4 linked regions of the Homo sapiens genome follow. The protein of the gene in region 4 interacts with the protein of the main gene of each other region in a pairwise test. Each region holds a gene or a part of one and is shown on either strand. Other genes may lie near its edges. The genes, in order: SEC24C, ROBO4, RER1 and WIPF1.

Evidence for each region.
Region 1: the proteins of WIPF1 (region 4) and SEC24C interact in binary tests that used the Homo sapiens proteins (3 or more experiments, as listed by UniProt).
Region 2: the proteins of WIPF1 (region 4) and ROBO4 interact in a two-hybrid assay, tested with the Homo sapiens proteins (one study listed by IntAct).
Region 3: the proteins of WIPF1 (region 4) and RER1 interact in binary tests that used the Homo sapiens proteins (3 or more experiments, as listed by UniProt).

The regions. Positions count from the first base shown.
Region 1 is NC_000010.11:73,754,350-73,761,373, reverse strand, and holds part of SEC24C (protein transport protein Sec24C), read right to left. Parts: intron 1,753-7,024; coding exon 1,580-1,752; intron 1,357-1,579; coding exon 988-1,356; intron 662-987; coding exon 525-661; intron 1-524. UniProt on the Homo sapiens protein: Component of the coat protein complex II (COPII) which promotes the formation of transport vesicles from the endoplasmic reticulum (ER).
Region 2 is NC_000011.10:124,894,862-124,902,085, forward strand, and holds the start of ROBO4 (roundabout homolog 4 isoform 1 precursor), read right to left. Parts: upstream 3,005-7,224; 5' UTR 2,935-3,004; coding exon 2,865-2,934; intron 2,401-2,864; coding exon 2,071-2,400; intron 1,810-2,070; coding exon 1,652-1,809; intron 1,458-1,651; coding exon 1,337-1,457; intron 1,052-1,336; coding exon 924-1,051; intron 825-923; coding exon 596-824; intron 333-595; coding exon 220-332; intron 1-219.
Region 3 is NC_000001.11:2,394,824-2,401,847, forward strand, and holds part of RER1 (protein RER1), read left to right. Parts: intron 1-960; 5' UTR 961-967; coding exon 968-1,048; intron 1,049-2,292; coding exon 2,293-2,397; intron 2,398-4,591; coding exon 4,592-4,691; intron 4,692-6,033; coding exon 6,034-6,112; intron 6,113-7,024. UniProt on the Homo sapiens protein: Involved in the retrieval of endoplasmic reticulum membrane proteins from the early Golgi compartment.
Region 4 is NC_000002.12:174,580,797-174,587,820, forward strand, and holds part of WIPF1 (WAS/WASL-interacting protein family member 1), read right to left. Parts: intron 6,931-7,024; exon of another isoform or gene 6,677-6,930; intron 4,816-6,676; 5' UTR 4,778-4,815; coding exon 4,727-4,777; intron 644-4,726; coding exon 514-643; intron 1-513. UniProt on the Homo sapiens protein: Plays a role in the reorganization of the actin cytoskeleton. Contributes with NCK1 and GRB2 in the recruitment and activation of WASL.

The sequences.
Region 1 (7,024 bases), on a different chromosome or scaffold from region 4:
TAAACTGTCGTTCACTCTTCCCCATCCACACAGCAGAAGCCTACCAAACAAAAGTACTGGGGACTTCCTCCTAAAACTGTCCAAGTAAGAGCAGAGAAACCAGTGAGGCTTTCCTTCTCTTAACATCTAACATCAGAGAATTCCCACCTGCTCTACCCATTAGGAAGAATGCCATCCTTCTAGATCTAAGGGGACAAGACCCAGTCACTGCTCCACAGAAGGACAAAGGCTACTATACTATGTATGTACAGTAGTGACAGAGTGCAGCCCTCAGACATCTACTGGTGCTGCTGCTCACTCTTGGTTTCCCTTCCTTCTCTGCCCAGCTATAGAGTAAAACAGCCCCCCAAAAGACTCCTAGAACCTCAAGTTCCAGTTCAGAATCAAATTATATGTAAGTTCTCCAAGAAGATGAACAAAAAGGGAAAATTATCAGAAAATGCTAGGCAAACATTTCATCTAGATTGACCTGCCTATCTGGCAGACACAAACCCTTCCTCAGGACCATGAAAGTTTCTACTTACAGGGCTTGGGATGGCATCAGGGTCCAGGCGCTTAGGAGGCAGTGGCTGAGGAGGCCCAGGCTGACTGCCAAAGGTGGGTGCTGCTGGGTAGGGGCCTCCATAATTAGACTGAGGGCCCCGGGCTGGTCCGAAGGAACCTGAGACAAGGACACAAGGTTGATGAACTCAAAATCCCATCCCTATCTCTTCTTAAGGCCTCAGGAAAATGACTAGACTCCTAAAAACATAGAATTATGAGGCACACTAATGCCTGGCAAAGACATTCAGAAAAATACCATGTTATCAGAACGACAAGAAAAAATAATGTCTTACAAACCCCATATCCTAGGAATAATACCCTGAAGCTACCCATCTAATTCACCACTTAGCAAGTAATACTAAAAACAAACAAATAAAAAACATCAAAAACCACCTGAGTAGCTGAAGCCTCTAGCTTCTAAGACAGACCTTGGGAAAGACTCACCATTTTGTTGGGGCTGATAGCCTGGCTGCTGCGGGGAGTGCATAGGTGGCAGTGGTCCCAGGGGCCCAGTCATCTGGGTGCCAGGGGGCAGAGCTTGAGGAGGTGAAGACACATGGTTGGGCTGGCTCACTGAGGGCCCTCCAAAACTCTGTCCAGGCAGGAGTGGACCAGTCATCGAAGGCAGCCGAGGACCCCCTGAAGCTGGGGGTGTGAAGCTGGAGGCCTGTGATGGGGCAGATCGCTGGGGAGTCTGGATCCCAGGATGACCTTGGGCCTGGCTAAGGGGAGGAGCCTGGCCCTGAGGATAGGAGCCATACAGACCAGAGTTAGGGAAACTTCCTGAGGCTGAAGCCAGCGATGTTGGTGGGCCTGAGAAGTAGAATAAAGGTAGAGTCAAAAGCCCAGTCATTCTGCCTCCTTGTTCGGTATATCACTTCCCTTTCCACACAAGAGGGGCAAATATGACTGTCCCATCTTCTGAGGCTCAGAGGCACAGGAAATACAAGGGAAATAAAAGAGATTCAGGTATAACCCCAGAGTCTGATGCCTCTGAACAGGGGACAGTAACATTCCTGTGTTCACAGCCACTCACCAAAGCCCAGCCCTGAAGAAGGAGGGGCTGGGGCCACAGCACCGCTGATCTGCATTCCAGACAGCTGCGTAGCCACCTGTGCACTTGTCGGGGGAGGGCCATAGGGCTGAAGCACAGGTGGCTGGTTGCCCACAGGGGCCAATGGGGACCCAAATGGCTGAGACCCAGGCAGCCTGTGAAAAGAAAGCAAGCAGAGGTGACTAGTGGGGCCAGGACACCCTTTGAAGTCTACAGAAGTGTCACATCATACAGGAAGCTACATTGTTTTGTGACATCTTACTCTCACACCCTGAGTTCTTTTATGGCTTCATACTTTTGTATATTTGTGGGTAAATTATATTCCTGATTATTCATGGCAAATCTTGTTTTCCATTAAGCTCACTCCACAAACATAAACCAAGCACCTTCAGGTCAAGTACTATTTACTCTGCTAACTAAATTACTGCTTCCTCTGCTTCAATTCTTTGACAAACCTCTTCAGTTTTGTAATCTGAAGCCCTGAAAGCACTGAAAGGGAAGGCACGCATAAGCATGCATGAACCTTAATAAATATGAAATCAAACAAATGCAGATTGATTGTCCAGCTTTTTTTTTTTTTTGAGACAGGGTCTCACTCTGCCACCCAGGCTGAAGTGCAGTGGTGTGATCACAGCTCATTGCAGCCTCAACTTTCCAGGCTCAGCTGATCTTCCCACCTCAGCCTCTCAAGTAGCTGAAACGAAAGTCACACGCCACCATGCGTGGCTAGTTTTCGCATTTTTTATAGATACGGAGTCTCGCCATGTTGCCTAGGCTGGTCTCAAACTCCTGAGCTCAACGAATCTGCCCGCCTCAGTCTACCACAGTGTCTTTCCAATATACTTTCCATTCAGTGTCTCCCTCTCTGATTATTCCCATCAGCACAAAAACATACAAACATCTCACACACACACACACACACACAAAAACCAACTATAGTGGAAACATCCCAAATGTCTATCAGCAGAAGAATGGATAAACAAAATGTGGCATGTAGCTACACAATGAAAAACCACTTAACCACAAAAAGGAATGGAGTACTAATATACACTACAACATAGTTGAACTTTGAAAATATTATGCTAAATTAAAGAAGTCAGTTATAAAATATCACATAGTATATGATTCTATTCTAATGAAAAGTCCAGAATAGGGAAATCTTTAGAGACAGAAAGTAGATCAGGAGTTGCTTAAGGTTGGAAGAATAGGGGAATGGGGGAATAGCTAAACAGGGGTAGTTAAAGAATGCAGTATTTCTTCTTCAGATGATGAAAATGTTCTAAAACTGACTGTAGTGATATCTGTCAATATACTAAATTGTGACAGCACATATCTGTCAATATATTAAAAACCACTAAATATACAAAAACACTTTAAACAGACGAATTGCACAGTATATGAATTATATCTCAAAAAACTTTTTAAAAATCCAACCAAATTACCTCACAGCCCCCTCAAACTTTTGCTCCCCTTTTAGCTAAACATTACAAAAGAATAGGTCTATACTCTGTCTCTACTTTTTTTTTTCTTTTCTTTTCTTTTGAGACAGAGTCTCACTCTGTCGCCCAGGCTGGAGTGCAGTGGTGCGATCTTGGCCCATCACAACCTCCACCTCCTGGGTTCAAGCAATTCTCCTGCCTTAGCCTCCCGAGTAGCTGGGACTACAGGTGCCCACCATCATGCCTGGCTAATTTTTGTATTTTTAGTAGAGACGGGGTTTCACTATGTTGGCCGGGCTGGTCTCGGAACTCCTGACCTCGTGATTCGCCCGCCTCAACCTCCCAAAGTGCTGGGATTACAGGCGTGAGCCACCGTGCCCAGCCTTACGTTTTTTTTTTTTTTTTTTTTTTTTTTTTGAGACAGGGTCTCGCTCTGTCACCCAGGCTGGAGTACAATGGCACTCACTATCTGTGGCTCACTGCAGCCTTGACCTCCTGGGCTCAAGCAATCCTCCCCCTAAGCCTCCCCTCCCAAGTATCTGAGACCACAGGCACACACCACCACACCTAGCTAATTTTTTTTATTTTTTGTAGAGACAGGGTCTTGCTATGCTGCCCAGGATAGTCTTGAACTCCTACCCCGGCTTCACAAAGTGCTGGGATTACAAACATGAGCACTGTGCCTGGCCCAACTCTAATCAAAGTGCCTTTCTCCGATAATCCCTTCCAGCCCGGACTGAGGTGTGGTTGTTCTACATTTGTTTCCAGAAGGTACTCCAATAATGACAGTGTCACCCTAGATTGATTTTTTTTTTTTTTTAGTTTTTGAGACAGGGTCTCACTCTGGCACCCAGGCCACAGTGCAGCGAAGCCATCATGGCTCACTGTAGCCTCAACCTCCAGGGCTCTAGCAATCCTCCTGCCTCCACCTCTGCTTCCCAGGCACACCAACAATGCTCAGCTATTTTTTTTTTTTTATAGCGACAGGATCTCCCTATGTTGCCCAGGCTGGTCTAAAACTTCTGGCCTCAAGTGATCCTCCTGTCTCAGCCTCCCAAGGTGTTGAGATTACTACAGGCATGAGCCACTGCACCTGGCCTCTAATTTAAAAAAAAAAAAAATTAGGCCAGGTGCAGTGGCTCATGCCTGTAATCCCAGTACTTTGGGAGGCCGAGACAGATGGATCATTTGAGGTCAGGAGTTCAAGACCAGCCTGACCAACATGGTGAAACTCCATCTCTACTAAAAAAATACAAAAATTAGCCCAGGCGTGGTAGTGCACACCTGTAATCCCAGCTACTCAAGAGGTTCAGACAGGAGATTCACTTGAACCTGGGAGGTGGAGGTTGCAGTGAGCCAAGGTCACACCACTTCACTCCAGCCTGGGTGACAGAGCGAGACTTCATCTCAAAAAAAAAAAAAAAAAAAAAAAAAAAAATTGGCCAGGAACAGTGACTCACACCTGTAATCCCAGAACTTTGGGAGGCCAACACAGGTGAATCACTTGAGGTCAGTTCAAGACCAGCCTGGCCAACATGGTGAAACCCTGTCTCTACTAAAAATACAAAAAATTAGCCTGGCATGGTGGTCATGCCTGGAATCCCAGCTACTTGGGAGGCTGAGGCAGGAGAATCACTTGAACCCAGGAGGCAGAGGCTGCAGTGAGCTGAGATCGTGCTATTGCACTCCAACCTGGGCAATAAGACCAAAACTCTGTCTCAAAAAAAAAAAAATATTACTGAGATGTAATTTCCATACCATTAAATTCACTTCAAGTGAACAATTCAATGATTTTTAGTAAATTTAGTTATGCAACCATCACCAGAATCAAATTTTAAAACATTTTCATCATTCCAAAAAGATGTCATGTCCATTTGCAGTCCCAAGAACTTTTTTTTTCACCCATCCACAGCCAGCCTGAGAGAAACAGCACTCCTTATCTCCCCTTTCCAGCGTGCAGACTTTTTTCCCCTAGTCAGCTTGTTCAATGAAGGTGCAGCCCAGGTCCAGACTTTATAAACAATGTCTCAGTTCCAAAACTACTCTCAGGAAAGCCCAAGGACTCATCTGCCTTCCCCAGTACCTGCTTAAATTTAAGGCCCTGGCTTCTCAAGATGATGAATCCACCCAATCTACAGGCAGCTCCAGAGTCAATTTACCACTCTGATTTTCAGTCCTCACTTGATGGCCAGGCACAGTGGCCCATGCCTGTAATCCCACCACTTTGGGAGGCCAAGGTGGGCGGTTCACCTGAGGCGAGGAGTTTGAGACCAGCCTGGCCAACACGGTGAAACCTCATCTCTACTAAAAATACAAAAATTAGCCGGGCATGGTGGCCCACATCTGTAGTCCCAGCTACTTGGGAGGCTGAGGCAGGGGAATCGCTTGAACCTGGGAGGTAGAGGTTGCAGTGAGCAGAGATCGTGCCACTGCACTCCAGCCTGGGCGACAGAGCAAGACTCTGTATTTAAAAAAAAAAAAAGATTTTCAGTCCTCACTTGGTCTCTAAAACTTAAGAATTTCACATTTTCTTTCAAGCTTAACTTTGCACTTAAAAATTTTTTTTGTTTCTATTTTCTCTCTCCTTTCTAGACTTTGGTAGCAGAGGGTTTTCAGATTATGTCAATCTACCACCCGGTTGAAACTTTTTTTTTTTCCTGAGACGGAGTCTCGCTGTCTGTCGCCCAGGCTGGAGTGCAGTGGCAAGATCTCGGCTCACTGCAAGCTCTGCCTCCTGGGTTCACGCCATTCTCCTGCCTCAGCCCCCCAAGTAGCTGTGACTATAGGAGCCTGCCACCGCGCCCAGCTAATTTTTTGTATTTTTAGTAGAGACGGGGTTTCACCGTGTTAGCCAGGATGGTCTCGATCTCCTGACCTTGTAATCCACCCGCCTCGGCCTCCCAAAGTGCTGGAATTACAGGCATGAGCCACCGCGCCTGGCCTGAAACTCTGACTCACTCCAACTGGGTAGTTTTCTTTATCTCTACACTGAAACTGCCTTTACCAATGACGCCAACCTTGCCAAATTCAATGGTCAATTCTCCATCTTCATCTTACAATTTGGCAGCATCTGACACAACTGATTACTCTCTCACCTTCTTGAAATACTCTCTTCACCTGACTTCAGGACACCACACTCTCCCGGCTTATCTCCCACCTCACTACTGCTCTTTCTCATTGTCTTTTGTTTTTTTTTTGTTTGTTTGAGATGGGGTCTTACTCTGTCATTCAGGTTGGAGTGCAGCGGTGCGATTTCGGCTCACTGCAACCTCCGCCTCTTGGTTTCAAGCCATCCTCCCACCTCAGCCTCCCAAGAAGCTGGGACCACAGGCATGTGCCACCACACCCGGCTAATTTTAGTATTTTGGTAGAGACAGGGTTTCACCATGTTGCCCAGGCTTGTCTCGAACTCCTGAGCTCAAGCAATCTGCCTGCCTCAGCCTCCCAAAGTGCTGGGATTACAGGAGTGAGGCACTGCACCTGGCCCCTCATTGTCTTTTAATGGCGGCTCCTCTTTACTTTTAAATGTTGCTAAGCTCCAAGTCTCAGTCCTCAATTCCATTCTTTAATCTCAATACTCACTTTTTAAATGATTTCATCTAGTCCCACGGCTTTAAATATCTATAGACTGAGGACTCCCAAATTTTTATCTCCAGTCCTAGCATCAGTCTTGAGCTGCAGATTTGTATATGCACCTGCCTACCTAACATCTCTACTTGAATAGAGTTTATATGAGGGACTTGAGCCTTTGTGGATTTTGGTATCTGTTGGTCAGGGGAGGTCCTGGAACCATTCCCCCATGGATACTGAGGAATGACTGTAGTGAGATTTGGGATACATCTTGAAGGTGGAATCAATAGAATTGGATGTGGGTTATACGGCATCATATTTGCATATAACCTCCCATATACTTTTTTTTTCCTGAGACGAAGTCTCACTCTGTCGCCCAGGATGGAGTGCAGTGGCACAATCTTGGCTCACTGCAACC
Region 2 (7,224 bases), on a different chromosome or scaffold from region 4:
ATAATACCCCAGGGTGGACTGTGAGGTAAAACGGGATCATGGAGGTCAAGTGCTTGGCAGGGTCTGGAAGCCAGTGGGTCCTTGCTCAGCAAAAGCAGGTTTCCTTTGCTTCTCTGCCCAGGTACCTTTCTCAGTGCCCAGAGCAAGGGTATGCAGAACTCCAGAGAAAAGAGATGTCCTGGCAGCAGTAGGAAGGGCTATGACAGCTAGTGGGGGTACCTGGTAGCCACGGATGATGCCATTGTGGTTTTCAGCAGGTGGTGGGACCCAGCTCACAAAGACAGTGCCATTGCCAGGCTTTAGAGTCACTTCCTGAGGTGGGGCACTGGGCACTGGAGGGGTGGAAGAGAGACTATGAGGGGCTCTGAGGGAGAGGACTCTAGGGAAAGGAGCTGGGCTGGGGGACACAGCGTCAGAACCCTACTGAAGAGACAAGAAGCCTCTTGAAGCTCTGCTGGCCTGGCCAGGGCAGAAGGGAGTCCCAGGGTAGGACCCATAATCTCCCCTCAAGACTGAAGCAGAACAGTCCAGGGGCCCCCAAATAAGAAGGAGCCAGAGGGGATATTGTTGGCTTCTGAAGGGATCAGGCCCTGACCTTTTTCCGGCAGCCTCAGGAGCAGCACGTTGCTGTCAGGGCCTCGAGCCCGGCCAGAGGATGGTCTCACTTTGAACTCGTAGTCTTGGCCCCAGTGGAGGCCTCCAAGCTCTGCGCTCTGCCAGCCGGCCAGCAGCTCCTCTGCCCACGGAGCTCCCTGGCCTCCCGGGGCAGTCTGGGTCCTGAACAAGGCCGTGTAAGATTGGGCAGGCGCAGCAGGGCCACTGACCTGGGAAGGAGTTTCGAGGAAGGGCGGGGGGTCAGAGAGCTCAGGAACGCCCTTTCTTGAGCTCTGGATCGGCTTTTACCCTTAGCACCTGGTCCTCACCTTCCAGCTGAGCCACACCGCCGGTCTAGGCTTGGGGCCCTCTGCAGGATCCGGGTTCAGCAGTGTCACATTTTCCAGCTGAATTCGCACAGCCAGAAGCTCCACAGGCTCCGTGTAGTCCTGGGGCTCTGTGGGGAGGATAGGGCTGGGCTGGGGCTTATAGGCCAGAGTGACAGAACTGAGGCGTGGAACATCCCTCAGCCAGGGAGGAACCCCAGGGAACCCAAACTCCCAGAGTCTCCAGGTCTTGAGCATTCCGATTTCTACTCTAGCAGGGGGGAACCTCCCGCTACGTGAGACCCCCAGCACTTTGACCCTGACCCCACATACCTTAACCCCAGCCCAAACCAGAATACACCACCCCAACTGGAGCCTGCAGCCTGGCTCTGATTGTAGCCCACCCCTGCCCTTACCCTGGATGGAAACCCGGGCTGCGCGGCTCTCCCTATGTCCTGCGCTGTTGGTGGCCACACACATGTAGGTCCCTTCGTCACTCTTCTCTGCTCTTGCCATCAGCAGGGACCCCCCGGACACCTGTCAGGGCCAGGTTCACTGTGAAGTCTCCTATGTGGGGAGGGGCTCTGAGCTGGGGGGAAGTTTGAGGCCCCCTGCTCTCCCCTCCTCAAATTCTACCGGAGGATGCGGGGCTGGACGGCAGGTCAGTCCATCAGGGTGTACCCAGGTCTGCCCAGGCCAGGATGAAGTGTGGGGGAGGGGGCCACACTTACTGTGTGCCTTCCGGGCTGGAGGGCCAGGGGTTTCCCATCTTTCCACCATGAGACTGTGGGCTCTGGGTGGCCCCAGGGCGGCCCACATTCCAGAGTAAACTGCTCACCCACCACAGCCACCATGTCCCGAGGCTGGATCTGGAAATCCTCCCGGAGGACTGTGGGGAGGATGGAAGGTGACACGGAGCAGGGCCCAGGCCTCTTCTCTCTCCCTTATCACTCTTGCCCCCTTCTGCTTTGCCCACCTTCCTGGCCTCCCATTTAGGGCCAGCCCCGCCCCAGCTTGCCCTCCCAAGCCTTCCAGCCCAGGCCTCTGCTCACAGGTATCCCACTGACCTCTCAGATGTTCCCTTGAACATTCAGCTCAGATGTCTCCACCCAGGTTTGCCCCACCCTGAAGCTCCCCTCCCAGGCCTCACCAGCCACAGACAGCCGAGCGCCTCTGCTGACTGCCGTGCCAAGCCGGTTGCTGGCCTCACATGTGTAGACACCCAGGTCTGTGGACAGGGCCTGGCCATCGTGGGCATGTCCCCGGGCAGGGGGCTGTAGCAGCAGAAGGGTCCCATCAGGCAGGAGGTGGTGTGGGTCTGGGGGCACCATGCTCAGGGGCTGCCCATTCAGCAACCAGCGGATGGTGGGAGGTGGCTGGCCTGAGGCTTGGCAGCTCATCCTGGCAGGGCCAGGGCCCTGGAACAGCTGGTCCTGGGGGTGGACTAGGATCTGGGGCGGGGAGTCCTGAGCCATGCCTCCTGGGAGGGAAAGGGAGCAGAGCCCAGTCTGATCACCAGCAACACCCCAAATTCCTGGCCCACCCCTCATCTGTCTTCTCTTGTGTGCGAGTTTGCCAGAAAACCTGTAATCTGAACTACTAAAGGTTGCCTCCCAAAGAACAAGCCAGCTAGGAGGAGAGAGGGCCAGCATGCACAGCATCCAGGCCAGGGCTTGCATAGCATGTTCGCTCTCTCTCTCTCTCTCTCTCTCTTACTTTCTCTCTTTCTTTCTTTCTCTCTCAGTCTCTCTTTCCTTCTTTCTCTCTCTGGTGTGTGCGCACATGCACAAACACACATACACTTACACACACTCATCATCATCATCCTCATCCTCATCTCTGGTCCCCCCACTGCAAAAGGGAAGCAGGCAGTCAGCAGGCCCCTTCTGCCCTGAGCAGGCCTTGGATGGAGGAGCATGGGCCAGGAGAGGGAGAGCAACTCACCCATGATGAGCAGGAGCAGCAGAGGCAGGGAACCCCTGCCCCCCAGGAGGCTGTCTCCTCCAGAGCCCATGGCTACTCTCAGCCCTATGTCCTTGTCCCGAGCACTTTGTCCTGCTGCTCTGAGCTCACAGTGAAGAGGGAAGGAGGGGCGGGGTGGGCCGGTGGTGGTTGTTTGTGACCGAGACTCTGCCCCAGGAGGGAAGCGGCTTTGAGGAAACCGATGCTTCCTGCCTGGCCCTCAGTGCCTTGGAGAACTGGGAGGAGACCAGAGGCGAGAAACTCTCTGACCTCGACCATTTAGCTATAACCCCCGACCCTAACTTCAGCGCTAAGCTTTATCTCATGATCTACTCGGGGATTTCTTACAGGGTATCCTTACACTAACCAAAACTCCGATCAGAGCCTTAATCCTCTATTTAAATCTTATCCCTGGATCCCAATCCTTATCCCTTTGACACCTGCTAGAGAAGAGTGAAAACCCCAGGAGTCTCAGGACACAGCAAGAAGCTGAAGACAGAGGGCAGTGGGGCTGCAGGCTGGGGAGGCTGAGTGAAGTGGAGCAGGGGTGGATTGTAACACCCTCATCCATTTCCCCAGTGCCAGATGGACCAGGAGGTGGCGTAGGGTGGGAGACAGGAAGGACTCAGCATCTGGGACAAGCTGGGAGATTACCACAGGGTGTGTCCATATTCAGCTCAGAGATGGATGAAATAAGCTTCTGTGGAGAACTTGGGCAAGTCAGTTTCCTTCTCTGTAAAATGGAAATAATAATAGTAGTTCCTACCTTGAGGGATAAAGTAATGATGAAACACATAAAGCATAAAACCACTGGCATCCAGTGCCTGACTCATTATGAGTGATCCGTAAAGCTGAGCCAACATTGTGTATTTCTTTTTAGGCCCATCCCATCACTGAAACTATTGGAGGATCCTCGGCAGGAGTATTTTTCAGGCCCTGGAAAGGTGGTTGGAGTAAAAGACCTTTTAAGAGTCTTTCCAGTCCCAAGAGCCTGTGTCCATATATGTAGCAGACAGGCCTTGCAGGTTTTGAGCCTACAATGTCAGCTCTTGCCCGCTGCCTCCTTTCCCCCACAACCTAGACAGAGGCCACACTCCCCTGTCAGATCCCAGCTCATGTTTACTGGCCTCTTCCTTCCAAATCTGGAATCTCAGCCATTTCCTGGAGCTGTTCCCGGAAGGCCAAGGCCAGGCTCTGGGGCTCAGCGGAAGAGTATCCAGCCTTTGTTCCCAATTGTTCCTGGCCAGCTTCTCTGCAGGGCCCCTAACCCAGCTGACGCCCTCCCTTCCTCCCCCTTCCCATCCTGGCTTCGGTGCCAGCCACAGACTAACAGCCTGCCAAGTAGAAGTCTCCTTCACTCCTCCTCTTTCCTCTCAAACTCAGACCAATACTGACAAAGACAGAACTGGAGCAAGGAAACACCATGGTCTCTACAAACTGGGGAGTTTGCAGAGGCTAAAGAATAGGCAGAGTGAAAGTCATGGAGTGGCAGAGCTGGAAGGATAGGAATTGGGGCCAGAGAACAGAATGTCACTACCCTTGGCACCTCTAATTCTGAAATCCCAAATTCTGTTCTCTGGCCCCAATTCCTACCCCAAATTCTGTGGGTGTATCCTTACACTAACCATAACTCCAATCAGAGCCTTAATCCTCTATTTAAATCTTATCCCTGGATCCCAATCCTTATCCCTTTACCACCTGCTAGAGAGGAATGAAAACCCCGGGAGTCTCAGGACACAGCAAGAAGCTGAGGACAGAGGGCAGTGGGGCTGCAGGCTGGAGAGGCTGAGTGAAGTGGAGCAGGGGTGGATTGTAACGCCCTGGTCCATTTCCCCAGGGGCAGATGGACCACTAGGTGGAGTAGGGTGGGAGACAAGAAGGACTCAGAGCGTCTGGGATAAGCTGGGAGATTCCCACAGGATGTGTCCATATTCAGCTCAGAGATGGATGAAATCAGCTTCTGTGGAGACCTTGGGCAAATCTGTAAAATGGAAATAGTAATAGTAGTTCTCTGTAAAATGGAAATAGTAATAGTAGTTCCTACCTTGAGGGATAAAGTAATGATGAAATACATAAAGCATAAAACCACTGGCATCCAGTGCCTGATGCATTATGAGTGATCCGTAAAGCTGAGCTAACGTGTATTTATTGTGGGGCAGGCAGAATGGAGTCGAGTTTATGGGGTCAAGGATCTGTGGGGCCAGAGTGATGAAGGGGAGATTCATGTGACACTGAAGTCAGCTGAGGATGAGACAGGAAAGGATGTGGTGGGATTGGAGGATTTACTGCACAGGAGGCCAATTTGGGATTTCCCAGGTACAAAGCCTCCAAGACTGTCTGACTCCCTGACTATCAGCTTATCAAGAATGTCACTGTCAGCAGTCTGCTTTTAGTCTCCTCTGCTTCTACATTGGTTTTGGGGACACTAATTAAGTGCTCGCTAATGTTTTAATGCCAACTGGATTTTACTCCAGTCTCCACAATCCAGAAAGACGCTAGGTTTCCCTCAGGGGAAAATAAGGCAAATCTCAAAGGAATTCCAATCCATCACTAGCCCCGTCCTCAGCAGGGTGAGAAAGGAGAGGTGAAACGGTCTGTGTGCACCGCAGGGACAGAGCCCCAGAGGCTCCTGCAGCCCGAGGAATGTCCCCTGCCCCACAGTCACATGCCCCGTGCCTGGAGATCACCTTCAGCAGAGCCTCACCCTACTCCCAGGTTTTGGAGAGCTAGGTGCTAACACCTGAAGGTGATTGGAGGGGCAGATTCCTCAGTTGTTCCTGCAGGACACTAGAACTTTTTCTCCAGGGCACTCAGAGTGACATGCGGTGGTGGCCGAGGGGACTTCCCAACAGTAGGGTATGTCTGGATGGCTCCCAGAGACTGCAGGGCTCATTTCCAGCAACCTGGTGCATCCGCATCCTCATTGTCTCATTTCCACAAACTAAGGAAGAGCCGACTGCATGAGTCATGGGGATGATGTGGCTTGGTGGGAGCCGCCCCAATTGCTATTTCAGAGAAGCTCTGTTCTGGGGCTCTGGTGATGTGCTGTCCTGGTGACCAGTTTAAGCAGTGCCTTCCTTCATCCCTAGTTCTGGTGTTTTGTGTTTTCTAACTCCCCCTTCGTTGCTTGTAAGAGGGAGAAGAGAGGGGAAGCACCAGGTGCCCTTCTGAGCAAGCCTCCAGAGGAAATTTCTCTTCAATGTCTGGCTCCTGGCTTCTTTGGCTTTCTGCTCTGTGATCTCTGAAGATGCAATCTGAGACTCCTGCTGGCCAAGCTGGTGGAGAAAAAGGGATAAACTCAGGTGGGATTTGGAGTCAGTTACACTGGGGTTGAGATCCTGCTTCCACTTCTTATTGGCAGAGAAATCTTGAGTAAGTCACATAACCTCTCTGAGTCCCACTGCCCTCATTTGTAAAATGTCTGCATGAGGTTTACAGACAATGGACATGAAAGTTCTCTGAAAACACTAGATATGTGTTAGTTGTCCTTTGAGTGTTCTGGGATCAGCATGCCTGACCAACACAGCCATAGCCAGTCCCAGCTACCCCTTGATACTCTTTTTGGATTTGAGACTCACACTTTTTGCCTTCTTGTTTTTTCCCCTTTTTTGCTTGAGTCTGCTTGGTCTCAATCTATAAATTCTCAAGTTTGTTCCAAGATGCCAACAGCTGGAGGGAAATTGAGTCAAGAGAGAAGACAGTAAAAACCTCCTCTTAGCTGGCTGGAAAACTCACCCTAAGGCCACTTCACTGGACAGCATCTATTCCCTAGTTTCTGGTCCCATCAACATCATGGGTGATTTTAGGTGCTTGGAATCTAAAATCACATCGAATACTCTCAACCCTACATTTTCTTAACTTTCTCGACACCAATGACTATGGATCACACCTAGCTTAAACATTGCCCAGTTGGAGATTTCAAGGGCTGCTGACATCAATATTTAACCATTTGCTCACATGTCCAGGAAGAAGGGGAGATCTGTTACTGTGCTTTGTGTTCACCCTGTCAATGCCCTCCAGTCAAAGACCATCAGGAACATACCTATTGTTGAACAAGTTGATTTACTTCTTGCAGCTTGAGAGAGTGCATGCCATGGAGAACTATGGAATGTCTAAGTAAGAGAGATGTTAGAAAGAACCTATTCTAGGATTTGGGCTTTGATTGGGTGATTTCGTGGAGGGTCCAGGGAAGTGAGGCTTCACTCAAAATTGGGTGCTGTTGGGAAGAAAGGACATGCAATGATTCTTTGCAGAGGAGTGTCTTTGTAGTATATCAAGTGGGTCTTTTTCTTGAATATGTAGTATATCAAGTGGTTCTTTTTCTATTATAAACAGTGCTGCT
Region 3 (7,024 bases), on a different chromosome or scaffold from region 4:
CCCTGGCGTCTTCTCTAGCTCAGGGGCCAGGAGGCCTCTCATCTTTAAAGTAGGAATGACAACCGGCAGGCCCTGGGTACTGAGCTGTGCTTTACCGAAGAGCGGCAGGTCCTGACGCCGTCTCCTCTCAGGAGTGGGGTGGCGGCGTGCTCAGCTGAGGAGCCAGGTGGCAGTCAGGCTTGGCTTGGCCTGCCCAGAAGCAGGGCTGTGGCAGGACCTTGGACACGTGGCTTCCACTGTTTGAGACTTGGTGAAATGGGGGTCATGATGCCCTTCACTTGAGCATCTGGGAATTAAGTGGGTGAACAATGTGACCTCTGGCACCTGGGTTCTCAGGTGAATTCCTCATGGCATCACAGCAGTGTTGAAATAGGAGCAGATACGTTACCTCCGCTTGCCAGATAAGAAACTGGGACGCAGATGGATGGACTACCTGAGAGTTGTAGATAACATTTTCCTGTTCATGGGGTGGAGGACCTGGCCCTGAGAGGACAGGATCCCTCCTGCTCCTGCCAGACCAGAGACCCAGGACAGGGCGTGGAGCAGACAAGGTGCCTGGGCGGGGGAACCCTGAGGGATCCACAGAGGGTGCGGTCCTTGGAGGGAGGACATGCAGTGCCACGTGCCATGGACCAGCCAGTGGACCCCATGGCCAGCAAGGCTGCTCCTGGGGCCAGTGGGGTGGACAGTCCCGCCCACGCAGGTGACTGAGGTGCCAGTGTGGGAATGAAAATGCGGCCTGTGCTCCTGGGCCCATGCGTCTCACGCTGCCCTTCCTCTCCAGGGAAGCCTGTGTACCTGCTACTTTTTCCCGAACAATTCATGGTAAAAACACAAATGGTATATGGACAAAATACTGAATGTGGAAGAAACCTACTTGACAGTGTTGGTGAAAATAGGGCCAGGATTTCACACCCGTGAATGCTTTTTACTGAAAAGTATTTTGTGTTTTTCTCCCAGTTACAGAATGTCTGAAGGGGACAGTGTGGGAGAATCCGTCCATGGGAAACCTTCGGTGGTGTACAGATTTTTCACAAGACTTGGACAGGTTGGTGGGTTTTTTAGTAGATGAGTATAAATATTTGAAAAAGAAACGGGACTCCCAGCATTTTCGGGAAGGATCTGTTTGCTGGTGTTCCTGATGGAGAAGTTACTTCGCCTCAGGCTCAAACTTCCTGAAGACAGCGTTCTCTTCACTGTGAAGGGCCAGCTGTGGAGAGATCGGGCTCTGGGGCCACACGTGGTCTATCAAACATATGCGTTTTCTGTTTCTGTTTTCCTTTTACCAAGCTTTAAAAATATAAAACCCAGTCTCAGCTCCCAGGCAGGACAGATGCGGCCGTGGCTGCCGTTCTGCTCTTGCTGTCCCTCTCCCAGCCACCCACGTCCCCGGTGCTGGTAGCCCCACCTGCCCCGTGTCAGCTCGGCGGTTCTGTCCTTGAGGGTGAGAGGCTCTTGTGTGGGCTGCGTGTGCATTGCTTGGTGAGTGAGGGACCTAGAGCTGCCTTTGAACGCTGGAGTCCGAACCTCTGTCAGGAAAAGCTTGGGTCACCGGCAGTTCCAGGTGCTGAGGATCCGGCTCAAATAAAAATTCATCACCTTAATTAAATCACATATGAAAAGCGATTGGCGATTAATGAAGTTGGGTGACAGGCATATGTAAGCTTCTATAATCTTTTTACTTTTGTGAATTTGGAAATTTCTCACAATTTGAAAATTAAATTTCTAAATTAAAATAAAAAACCATACATATGTATATTTGTAAAAATAAATACATAAAACTAAGGGCTCCTTCGGTCATGTCCACAGCCGCCTGGACGCACACACATGTGGGTGTGGCTGCTGGGGCTCAGGCTGTGGCCAGTGGGCCTGGGAGCGGGGCAAGGCTGGCTGCTGGCTGCTGCAGATGGGGGAGCTGACTTGAGATGTGACGATAAGGGCTGTGCTGTAGGGTGGGGACTTTGAGATGCACAGTCCTCTCTTTGGGGTGAGGCTGGGTCTTCCCCATAGTGATCCCTTGGGGCCAGCACAATGTCACAGTCTCCTAGGAGATTGTTTTGTAATAGTCTTGCTTAAGAGATGAACCTGCTTCAGGAATTATTGAAAATAAACTTTGGATTAATTGTAGTCACTTCTTTGTGCTGATACATAGATGATCTCTTGCTATTTTAACTCACTCTTTTAGCTGTTTTAAAAATTGAAAGCCAACCCTAGCAGAAGGTACATTTTGTGGCAGGGTCAGTACAGAAGTTACAGGACCTGCTTCATGCTTTTGGACTCTTGTCTTTCTAGATTTATCAGTCCTGGCTAGACAAGTCCACACCCTACACGGCTGTGCGATGGGTCGTGACACTGGGCCTGAGCTTTGTCTACATGATTCGAGTTTACCTGCTGCAGGTAGGTGTGGGCTGAAGTGACGAGACTTGGCTCTGTCCACGTTACCTGGGCGTGATGTTTGTGGGGATGTTGTTGATCCAGTCTGTCTTGCAGGAAGTGGTCTCTAGTAATCAATTTTCAGCTAAACGCCAAATGTCAGAAAGATCTCAGTGACTGTCTTTAACGAACAGGGTTGTTTATGATTCACCCGGAGTCGCCTCGCCAGGCTTCTCAGTATACCCAGGCCGTCCTGAGCCCAGCCTGGCCCTGCCCTGGGCACGTCCAGGCCTGGACAGTGGAGCCGCTGGTGTCCCTCCGACCCTGCTGCATGATGCTCAGGACAAGGTTGCGCTCTGTGGCTGCCTCATTCCTTGGGTGAAGAGTCCATGCCTTGGGTGTCATGAATGACTCGGCGTCCAAAGGGTTTATGTAGCTTTTCCTGAGCTCTCCCTTGTGTGAGGCCAAAGCACAGTGCAGGTTGAGACGCCGAGTCAAGTAAGAGAGACAGTGACCGAAGGGGGTCTTGAGGGTTTCCTTCGTGTGTTTTCGGGCACCCCTAGGTCAGGTGATGTCGTCTCAGACTTCACCTGGGTGCTCCTTTACTTGCTGGTAAACACGGGGTTTCTAGGAGCAAACCTGTAAGATGGGAATTCTTCGTCGGTCTTTAGAGGAGGTTACATAATCTTATGTGCAGAGCAGGGCATGTTGAAAGCCTTGTCTGGGCTATTTTCTCCTCTGGGGACTGTAGAAGATACTTCCTTGTTTAAAGCACACACCTTAATTTATTTATTTATTTTTGTTTTTAAATTGGAACTGGGTCCATTCTCTGATGGAAAGAATGACCTAGAAATCTTGAATCAGGGACTTCAGGCAGGAGCAGGGGGCGGGAAGAGTGCAGCACCCACAGGTCAGTTTTATTGCGTTCGAAACCAAGCTCGTGCCTCATTTGGCGTCTCTTCAGGTGTGGCCCTGCAGCCGAGGATGGACACACAGACATCAGTTAGCCCTCACATCCGGCGTTCAGCCGAGGATGGACACACAGACATCAGTTAGCCCTCACATCCGGCGTTCAGCCAGGGATGGACACACAGACATCAGTTAGCCCTCACATCTGGCGTTCAGCCGTCTGACTGGAAAAGCTTTTAGGCAGAAAGACTTCTTGTTTGTATAAGAAAGTTAAAGCATTTATATTTTTATTTATTGTTTTGAGATGGGGTCTCACTCTGTCGCCCAGGCTGGAGTGCAGTGGCCTGATCTTGGCTCACTGCAACCTCCACCTCCTGGGTTCAAGTGATTCTCTTACTTCAGCTTCCCGAGCAGCTGGGATCACAGGCATGTGCCACCATGCCTGGCTAATTTTTGTATTTTTAGTAGAGACGAGGTTTCACCATGTTGGCCAGGCTGGTCTTGAACTCCTGACCTCAGGTGATCCACCCGCCTTGGCCTCCCAAAGTGCTGGGATTGCAGGCGTGAGCCACCACACCCGACAGAAATTTAAGGCTTTTGAAATTGAGAATGCGGTTCTGGCTTTTAACGGGATATGCTTAATCATTTTAAAAAATGAATTAGTTGCAAATAAGTGTGCTGCACTCAGGCATCTTGCCAAAATTCTCCCCACTTTTCATCTCTTGAGGAAGGCTTGGCATAAGCACACTTTTCTGGATTTCCCAGTTGTGGATTTCTTCTGGGCAAAGGTTTAACCCTCCTGGCAGAGTGTTTTTGGCAATGTGAATTGTCTGTTGGAGGAACATCAGCCAGCACGCCTCCAGTCACAGTTGAGAGTCTGTCTTCTGTTTCTGATGAAGCTGCTCCTGGGTGGGGCTCTGGGCCAGCATCGCTCAGGTGCCCGGGCCACCCGAGCCTGTGGTGTAGCTTGAGCATGTGCTTCTTGAGAAAAGCCTCCTTTTCTGCTGCGCTCCTTGTGGGGCGTCTGTGGCTTCAGGGATCACATGTGTCTAACTGGACCCTTGAAGAGCTTTGCTCATTTGGGCCCTTGCTTGTCCGCTTTGTCTCTGTTCCCACAGAGTATAATTTGAGATAAATTGTTACCATGGGATTTCACTGTATTTCCTTGTCCTTGCTATGAGTAAGTTTTGTGTTAAAACAAAGTTAGATCAGTTAACAAAGTTGAGAGTGAACCGGAGTGCAAACGTGAACTGGCTCAGGCTGATGGACGGTCAGAGTGCACCACTGACTCTCTTTCCTTCTCTTTCAGGGTTGGTACATTGTGACCTATGCCTTGGGGATCTACCATCTAAATCTTTTCATAGCTTTTCTTTCTCCCAAAGTGGATCCTTCCTTAATGGAAGACTCAGGTAGGGTAGCGGCTGTGCACTGGGCTGTGTGGGCAGGTTGGGCCTTTCTTTTCTGATGGGATTGCCCAGTGTTCTCTGGAAACACCCGAGACTCTTCTCTTGGGGTTGAAATGTACTTGTAATGTTGGGTGATCAGGATATGTTTGTAGAATGACTCTTCAAACCCTCCTGACAGCCACGAAGTGGGTGTTCATTCTGTTTTCCCACTTTGCAGATGAGGAAACTGAGGCATACAGGGTTAGGTAACGTGTTCGAGGTCACATGGCACCACAGACAGTAGGGGTCTGAGGTGGACAGTCCGACTCCAGCCCCCGTCCCACCCCAGTCAGTGGTCCCTCTCAGAATCAGCGGAGGCAGCCATGACGAGGTTACCTTTTCCCGTAGCCAGAGGGTTCCACAGGCAGCTCACTGTGGTGCACAGAGACCGCCGGGACTCTAATGCCAGCATCGGGTCGGGTCAGGCTTTGGGCGGCCTTCTCTGGTTTCTGAGGAGCTGTGAGCTGAAGTGTTCCTGGTGCTTCGTGCTCCACTATTGGAAGACTTACGCAGCTCCTGGGCCTGCCTGGGCCAGGTAGGGGCCCTGAGTTCATGCCTGACTGGCCAGCCCCAGGCGAGGAACAAACAACTGCATTCCAGGACGTGGTGGCCATTGAGGGAAAACCCACACGCAGCTCCCTGCCAGGACCCTCCTCGTTCTGGGGGAACCTGCTGTCAGGGAGTAGGGTATGCTCTCACTGTGTGGCCAGAAGCCTGTGAGTCTTCTGTGTAGGATATGTGATGAAAAGATTGCTGGGAACACAGCCCCTCTCTGTTGTTGCTGTTTGGAGGAGACTAGAAAATAACAAAGAGCCCCTTTCCTGTAGGCCTCAGTTTTCCCATCTGTAAATGGGGAGCGGCACCCATCCCAGTGGGGGAGGCGGGGTGAGAGTGGGCTTGGCACAGCTGCTGGTGGGACAGGCCTGGCGCCCGGGTTCCACGGTCAGCGCATCCTCGGCCCCGCCCTGTTCTCTGCCGCTTGCTTTTTATGTTAATTTGCCTTTGTTTTCTTCTGTGCCTTTACGTGGTGCAGCTGACGTGTTCCTGGATGTTTATATGTGGTTGAATTCTTCGTGCATTGAAAACGTGTGGAAGTCTAAAAACATTCTGATAGCACCTTCTGAAAGCAGTGAATTGGATGTGTCAGTTGACCACAGACCCCCGTTTTCTCGTTTTCTCTGGTTAAATGACATGAATCTCGGTTTAGATTTGTGAGGCCTGCTAGTCCAAAGCCTTGAGGGGAAAAGGTAGAACTGTGATGGGAATGAAAAGAGGTGCCCTCCCTGATGGTTGCTCTGCCTTACAGATGACGGTCCTTCGCTACCCACCAAACAGAACGAGGAATTCCGCCCCTTCATTCGAAGGCTCCCAGAGTTTAAATTTTGGTGAGCTAATTCTTCACGGTATTTGAAGAGAATTGTGCTCAAGGGTGGCTGAGACTGAGACTACACTGATTTTTGTTCAAGTCACCTGAAAGATGACTGCTGTGCTGGGCTGGGCACGGGGAATCGCAGGGGCTCTCTGTAGAAGGCCACTCACTACCTTGCCGCATTCTCTTGGTTTCAAGTCAGCACCAGTGCCCTGGAGGTTGAGTCTGGGATGGAGTGCGCACCGGCTTCTGTGGTTGTGGCCTGGGGAGGGCAGGCCCTCTGTCCTCCCTCCTCCTCCCTCCTCCTCCCTTCCTCCCTCCTTCCTCCCTCCTTCCTCCCTCCTCCACCCTCCCTCCTCCCTCCTCCTTCCTCCCTCCTTCCTGCCGCCTCCTCCCTCCTTCCTGCCTCCTCCTCCCTCCTTCTCCCTCCTTCCTCCCTCCTCCTCCCTCCTTCCTCCCTCCTCCTCCCTCCTCCTCCCTCCTCCTCCCTCCTTCCTCCTTCCTCTCTCCCATCCCCAGCCTTGTGGCTCCTTTTGGCTGGCAGAGGGACTAGCCTTCTCCTGGAGTCATTTTTGAGAGGGGTTTGAGCCGAGGTGTCCGTGTCTGCACGGGTAGGCAGAGGTGGGTGGTGCAGCCGTCAGAGGGACGGGAGCGTGTGCATCCGTTTGTCTTGTCCCTCATACCCCACTCTGGGAGCACAGGAGGAACCCAAGTCTGTTAGATCAGTAAACTGAAGGAGCCTGCTGAGCTCGTGGGGCTCCACGCCTTGACTTTGCAGCCGCAGATGGAGTGTGGTACAGAAAGATCAGGGGCCCTGGAAGCCACCAGAAGCTTGGACTAGGAAGGGAGAGCTGAGCCTCCAGGGCCGTGGCATCTGTTGGCCATGTGCTGGGACGGGAGGGAGCACTGGTGGCCATGCCACAGTGAC
Region 4 (7,024 bases):
TTGAATTACACTTTCCAGACAACAAAACATTTTACAGGCATTATCTCATTTGAAGCTCATGACAAACTTGTGAGGTCAATAGAACATGTATTATCATCTCCATTTTAAAATGAAGAAAACAAGGCTTGGAGATGGTACAGGATGGATGTGCCAGGTCTTGAACCCACAGCTTTTGATTCCAAGGCTAGGGCTCTTTCCATATTTTATGCTGCCTCCTCATCTGTGGTGCCAGGAGCAATGGGTTAATCTCCAGAAAGTGTTGTGAATAATGCAGAGAATTGCTGCTGTGTATGTCTTGGACAAAGAATTATTATACTGGCTTCTTGCAGCATTAGAGGGGAACCCAAGCCAAAGCTGCGGCCTACAGGGAGTGATACAGTCCCTTATTTTGCTAGCTTTGCAGCTGTTGTTAACCAAAAAATAAAATAAAATAAAAATTGAGTGGTGAGGGTAGGGTTGATTATTAGGCCATAAACTGTTCCTCTCCATGGTAGATAGCCTTTTTTTACTTACTGTCCAGTATTGGTGCACTTCTGTCATTGGTGACCGTCTTCTTTAGTTTCTTCCCTTTGCTGATATCAGAAAGGAGAGCATTTCTCCCAGCCTGCTCTGTCTTATTCAAGGTAGGCTTCTCTGTATTGGCCTGAAAGGGAGCCATACAAACAAGTAGTCATCTCTTGGGTTAAAATCATGCATTGTAACACTCGGCTGGGAAAGGTTGGGTACGGGAAGCTTGTTGTTAAGGTTCTTGGTGATAGGTTGTAAATTCTCGACAAGTTTTAGACCCCATATCTTTCTTTTTAAGATCCAGACGTTTGGAAGCAGATGCAGCAATAAATTATGTTCATTTTTAAGGGAGGAAGAGTCAGTCCTTGATTAAAGTCTCTGAAAATTCAGACCACAATCTGACTGAAACTAACAGGGCCAGGTTAGGGTGAGATGACTAGACACGAGAAAAGAATTTTAAGTCTGGGAGGATTCTGCAGGACATTACCAGACGTCATTCACTAGAGGGTACCCTGAAGAATAACTTCCTTTTCCCATCTTTTAGAACTACCCCAGTGCAAGGGAAAAACTGTCTCTAGCAAAAAGAGTCAGCTGTATGTTTTTTAAACCCACTAAAGTTCTAGAAAATAATTCCCTCTGTGTATATTGCCAAAGATGCTTTTTTTCTCTTTTTAAGTCAGATTTATTAAGGTGTAATTTACACATAGTGAAATCACCCTTTTTAGTTACAGCTCTATGAGTTTTGACAAACATATACAGTTGTGAAACCACCGTCACAATCAAGATATAGAATATTTTCATTACTTCAAAAGTTCCCTCATGTCCTGTTGGCATGAGGTGTTTCTGATGTTTAATTCTGATGAAAGCTTAGCTCATGGAAATTGTGGAATGGACAAAAATGCTGCTTTAACATGTCTGATTATTTTCTTATATTTCCAGAATTCCTAGGAAAGATCCCTACCTACTATGAAATTGGGATCTTGTTCCTTCAGGGAGTTGGGGACACTAAGAGACCAGCAAATGGACTTAGATGTAGGCACCTGCCTGTGTGCCTGTGTCTATCACACTTGGAAACTGGCTAGGTCTTGTCTGTCTCAGGGAGAGTCTGGCTGCCCCAAACCCACAGGTCCTTTCTAGGCTGGCCCCAGCCCTTCTGACAGGGATATGATTTCAGATTTGCCAGTTAGGGCCACAGGAGGAAAAGCTGGGGAAATGTATGGCTCAATACCTTACCCAGCCTTTAAAAAACAATTTTTTTTTAGAGACAGAGTCTCATTATGTTGCCTAGGCTGGAGTGCTGTGGCTATTCACAGGTGTGATCATCATGCAATACAGCCTCGAACTCTTGGGCTCAAGTGATCCTCCTGCCTCAGCCTCCTGAGTAGTTGGGATTACAGGCACGAGCTACTGCTCCTGGCCTAACTCAGCCTTTTATTAGCAGAGTTAGAGGCAAAGGAAGAACTCAGAAAAACCCTGAAGTAGGCTAACCAGAATTGCAGTGGTAAAGTTGGAAGCATCTTGAAATAACTAAATGATGAAGTATTACTTGCTTATGATAATAATAGTTAACATATACTCTGTGCCAGGCACTGTTTTCAGCACCTTATGTGTATTACTTCATTTAGCCCTTATCAACCCTGTGAGTTATTATTTCCATTTTACAGACAAGGAAACTGAGGTATAGGGAGTTTAAATCATTTGCCCCAGGCACCTAGTTAGTTGAGGAGGAGCTGGGATTCAAACCCTGGCAGTCAAGAGCCTTCCCTACAAGCTGATAGAAGGATAAATGTGGGCTCTAAAATGCCCCTCCCCATCCAGCCCCAACACACCGCTGAAGCATGCTTGTTAAAAGTTTCTCTGCTGTCCTTCCAGAAATGCTCTCTGCATACACAGTTTGCTTTTGCTAATGGGATTCTCCTCTATTGTTCTGCAACTTGTTTGTTTTCAACTTAACATACTTTGGATGTCCTGGAAAAGAGCTCTTAACATTACCTGCTGTCTTCATTTTAAGGATGAAAAAACTCTGAGGCCTAGAGAGGTTAAGTGATGTGTCACACTGGATCTCTTAACAGTTTTGGGTCAGCAACCTTCAGTAGCCTCCTGTTCTGCCTCAAAATTTATTTTGACAGCTGACCTCCCTGGGTGCTAACTTCTCTCATGTTCAGGGCCCTTAATTATGTTGTTTCACAAGGGCAGTGTTCTATGATGGCCACCAACCCACCTTTTCCCTTTCTTCATCTCTATATTCTATTTATCCAAAATCTTGCTTTGAATTAGGTAACAACGGATAGAAATGAGTTGATAAGATAAGCAAGGTTTCCCAAACTTCAAGCATTCTGGTATAAGATTCATGATTTTTGTCATCTTCTCATACCACCTGTGTTATTTATTTAATATTTTTTATTAAGTCAGTTCACTATAGCCCACACTTTTGGGGAAACATGGATAAATGAATCCTGCTATGTAAGCCAGATTGGAGGTTCTCAAACTTACCCATGTGAAGGACCAACTTTTTTTTTGTTTTTTGTTTTTTTGCGACAGAGTCTTGCTCTATCACCCAGGCTGGAGTGCAGTAGTGCAATCACAGCTCACTGCAGCCTTGACCTCCTGGGCTCAAACAATCCTCCCATCTCTGCCTCCAGAGTAGCTGGGACTATAAGCACGCACCGCCATGTCTGGCTGGCTAATTTTTAACATTTTTTTTGTAGATATGGGGGTCTCGCCATGTTGCCCAGGCTGGTCTCGAACTCCTGGGCTCAAGTTATCCTTCCAAAGTGCACGCCTGGCCAAGGACCAGTCTTTTGAAAAATATTTTCATCAGGAACTGACGCTTTTGTAAAATAACAATGAATTATTAGAAAAATGAATTAGTTTTTTAAAAAAGACACACAACATCCAATCTTAGAAACAGAAAACTACTGTCAAATTGCTAGAAATGCTTCTAAATGCTTACTTTCAACTTTTGTCCTCATCACTTTGGGGACTCTTAAAAAGCAGTTGGAAGGCCACACTCTGAGTAACAATAAGCTAATTAATAGGCAGTTCTTCTCACTAGGTTTCAACCTCAGATGAGTTATATAAATGTGTCTCATGGAAACCTGGGGCAAGAAACTTTCTCTCCAAGCCTCAGTTTCCCCATGTGAAAATGGTGAAAATGAAGGAACCATCAGTGTGAGGCTCCTCCTCAGTGAAGGCTTCACAAGCTGGAGAGGGCTTTGTAACAGAGCGTATCTTGGGGCCTTTCCATATGACCAAGTGGAGAGTTGCCAAATTCCTGAAGAGGGCACACTAACTTCCCCAAAGAGGTCTATCAAAGGAGCAGGATGAGCCGGGCACAGTGGCTCACGCCTGTAATCCCAGCACTTTGGGAGGCCGAGGTGGGTGGATCAACTGAGGTTAGGAGTTCAAGACAAGCCTGGCCAACATGGTGAAACCCCGTCCATACTAAAAATACAAAAATTAGCTGGGCATGGTGGTGCTTGCCTTTAGTCCCAGCTACTTGGGAGGCTGAGGCAGGAGAATCACTTGAACGGGAGGTGGAAGTTGCGGTGAGCTGAGATCGTGCCATTGCACTCCAGCCTGGGTGACAGAGCGAGACTCAAAAAAAAAAAAAAGACCAGGATGAATCCACTGAAGAAATTCTTTCAGGAAATAAACATCTAAATGCCTAAATGCAAGTATAGATTTAAAGGAGGATGTGAATGTGTATGGCAGAGGTGGTGGAGGGAGATATTTGTCAAAAACAGATTGGGAAGAAGAGGGGAAAAGGCAGAAAAAAAGAAAGGAGTGAGACCGGAAGACACTTTAATGGAATGCACTGCAGGCAGAGACCTGGGTTTCTAGACCGTCCAGCCCAGAAGTTAAAGGCCAGACATTGAGTTCATCTGAATGAAAACAGTGCACACTGGTCTCAGAACTGATCCTGCAAACCCTATCTTGGGCCAGCACATGTCCCTGCGCAGATGCGGCAGAAAACACCTCATCAGCCACATTCCACCCTTGTACTATCCATCACACGAGACCTTAAACAAACAAAACCCTTCGTGTTGTTTGTATTTGCTGGGTTTCAGGATTTGGCTTACCCTGGGCACTGGGAAAGCCTGTTGTATCACATGTGAGCCAGAATGCAAACACATTTAATACAAACACATGCACGCCAGGTTTTGGCTTCATTTGGCTTGCTTTATGCATAGAAAGTGTTTGGGGAGGAGACACTCACCAGTGCAAACGTCGGGGGCGGCGGGGGTGCTGGAGGGGGAGGGACAGGCATCTTGGGCAGTTATGCGTTCAACAGTCTTGCTGATAAATCTGGAAAAACAAGAATGCGATCATGTATTAGATGTAATCTTAGTAATACTGTCCTAATCTGTCTTCACTTTCCCACCAAAGTGACAGCTCCACCTAGCTCAACTCTTAGAAGAGATGGGCTTACCTTTACACCTCACTGCTAAAACATTACTGTTCTGGAAGGATCCCGGCAGAGGGGCTTCTGACCCGAGGTGCTTGGAGAGAATGGAGGCCACATCCAGTGCCTTACTCGGCTCCATTCCCCCACCCACTACAGTAGGCCATGACCGACCCAGGTGGGCCCAGTTAAGCAGGAAGGTCTCACACAACTGCTAGGATGTATCCTGGCCAAGTTTCACTGAAAACAAATTCACTTCAAGTGGCTTCTCCTCTTCGCTAATTTCCATGACAATCCTTTCATGCTCTCCCACCCCCTCTGGCTTTCTCCTCCCATTCTTCCTGACATTCGCCAAGTCTGTGTGTGCACTGCAGGAATATGAAAATGAATCTACTTCTAGTCCCGCCCTCAAAGTTCCTAGTCCTCCAGGGAGAGGGCATGGAGAATGTCAGGTGGAAAGCAGGGAGCAGCAGCTGAGGCGGGGTGGACGTGTGGGGGGTCAACCTTATGTTTGGAGCACTCAAAGACCAGCCATCCCTATCTCTGTGCTCCTTAGCATTTCCTCAGAGGATCTAAGCGAAAACAGAGCGGGCATGAGAAGTCAGACCTAGGACTCCCAGGCTGTTTACCAGAAATGCATTTCATTTAGAAGAGCCTGTCTTAGCTTTGTTTGGGTAAAAAATTATATATAAATAAAATAAAAAAGAAGAGCCTTTCTGCAGAGTGTGCTTGCTCTGAAAACAAAGGGAAGACCAGATTCCGTAGCTGGGTAGGAAAGTTTAGGGACCCCAGGTGGGTGAGGGGGCAGGGCGGAGAGGGCAGCCTGGCAAACACCAGGGCCAGGAGAGACGATGGCCAGGAAGTGCCTGGTGAGTTACACCAGCCAGGAGCCCTCTCCCCATTTCCTCTAATCCTTGCAGTCCTGTTCCTTCGCCTCACTAGAACCCCTGCTCCCTCTGCCCTGTCTAGGACAACGCCTCACCCACTGTTCTCATCCCTAAGCAATGCCAGCTTCTCCCACCCCATCCTTGCTACACAAACTGTGGTCCTGGATAGGCAGCGTGGGCACCACCCAGAAGCTGTTAGAAATGTCAACTCCCAGTCCCTTTTGCCCCCAGCTGAATTCGTTTCAGCATTTTAACAAGATCCCTGGGTGATTCATACGCACTAAAGCCCTATGTAGAGATCGAGCCTTAAGCCAGCGGGCAGTCTGGGTCACTGGCCACCTGAATAACATTATTTCTACAGGACATGTGTCCCAAATTTTAAACTGCAGAATTATATTTCTTTAAAAAATTTTTTTAAATTTTTTTTTGGAGATGAGGTCTTGCTCTGTCACACAGGCTGGAATGCAGTGGCATAATCATAGCTTACTGTTGCCTCAAATTCCTGGGCCTAAGCAATCCTCCTGCCTCACTCCTGAGTAGCTTAGCTAGGACTGCAGGCATATGCCACCACGCCTGGCTAATTTATTTTTATCTTTTATTTTTGTTGTGATGGGTCTTGCTATGTTGCCCAGGCTAGTTTTGAACTCCTGGCCTCATGCGATCCTCCTGCCTTAGCCTCCCATAGTGCTGGGATTACAGGTGTGAGCCACTGTGTCAGGCTTTTTAAACTCCCAATAGTCCCTTAATTGCAAAAAACAATTTCTTAGAATTTAAAATATTCATTTAGTTCAACCACTACAAGTTAATGTGGAAAACTGAAACCTAAACAAATACTTTCTATTGAGATAATGCTAAATGGCTTGCTTTCTGTGAACAGAAATGGACTGGAGAAGCTAAAAAAGACACTGCTGGACTTGTCACAGCCGCCGGGAAACAAGAATTAAGACAGTTCGGAAGAGTCCCATTCAAAGTGGGCGGTCTAGAAAATGAAAATTTTAAATTCCACAGCAGCAACAGCAGCTCTCATGTATGGAGAATCTGCTGGATCCAGGGCTCTATCCTTGCGTGGTCTCTGACTCCTAAGACAGCGGAAGCCAGCATCGCTGTGCTCATTTGATAGACTCAGAGAAATTAAATCACTCCCTAAAACACCCTGAAGCAATTCATTCAGTCATGTCCTTTTGCTTCCTGCTCTTCTGCTGGATAACACTGCCTCACTCACTCA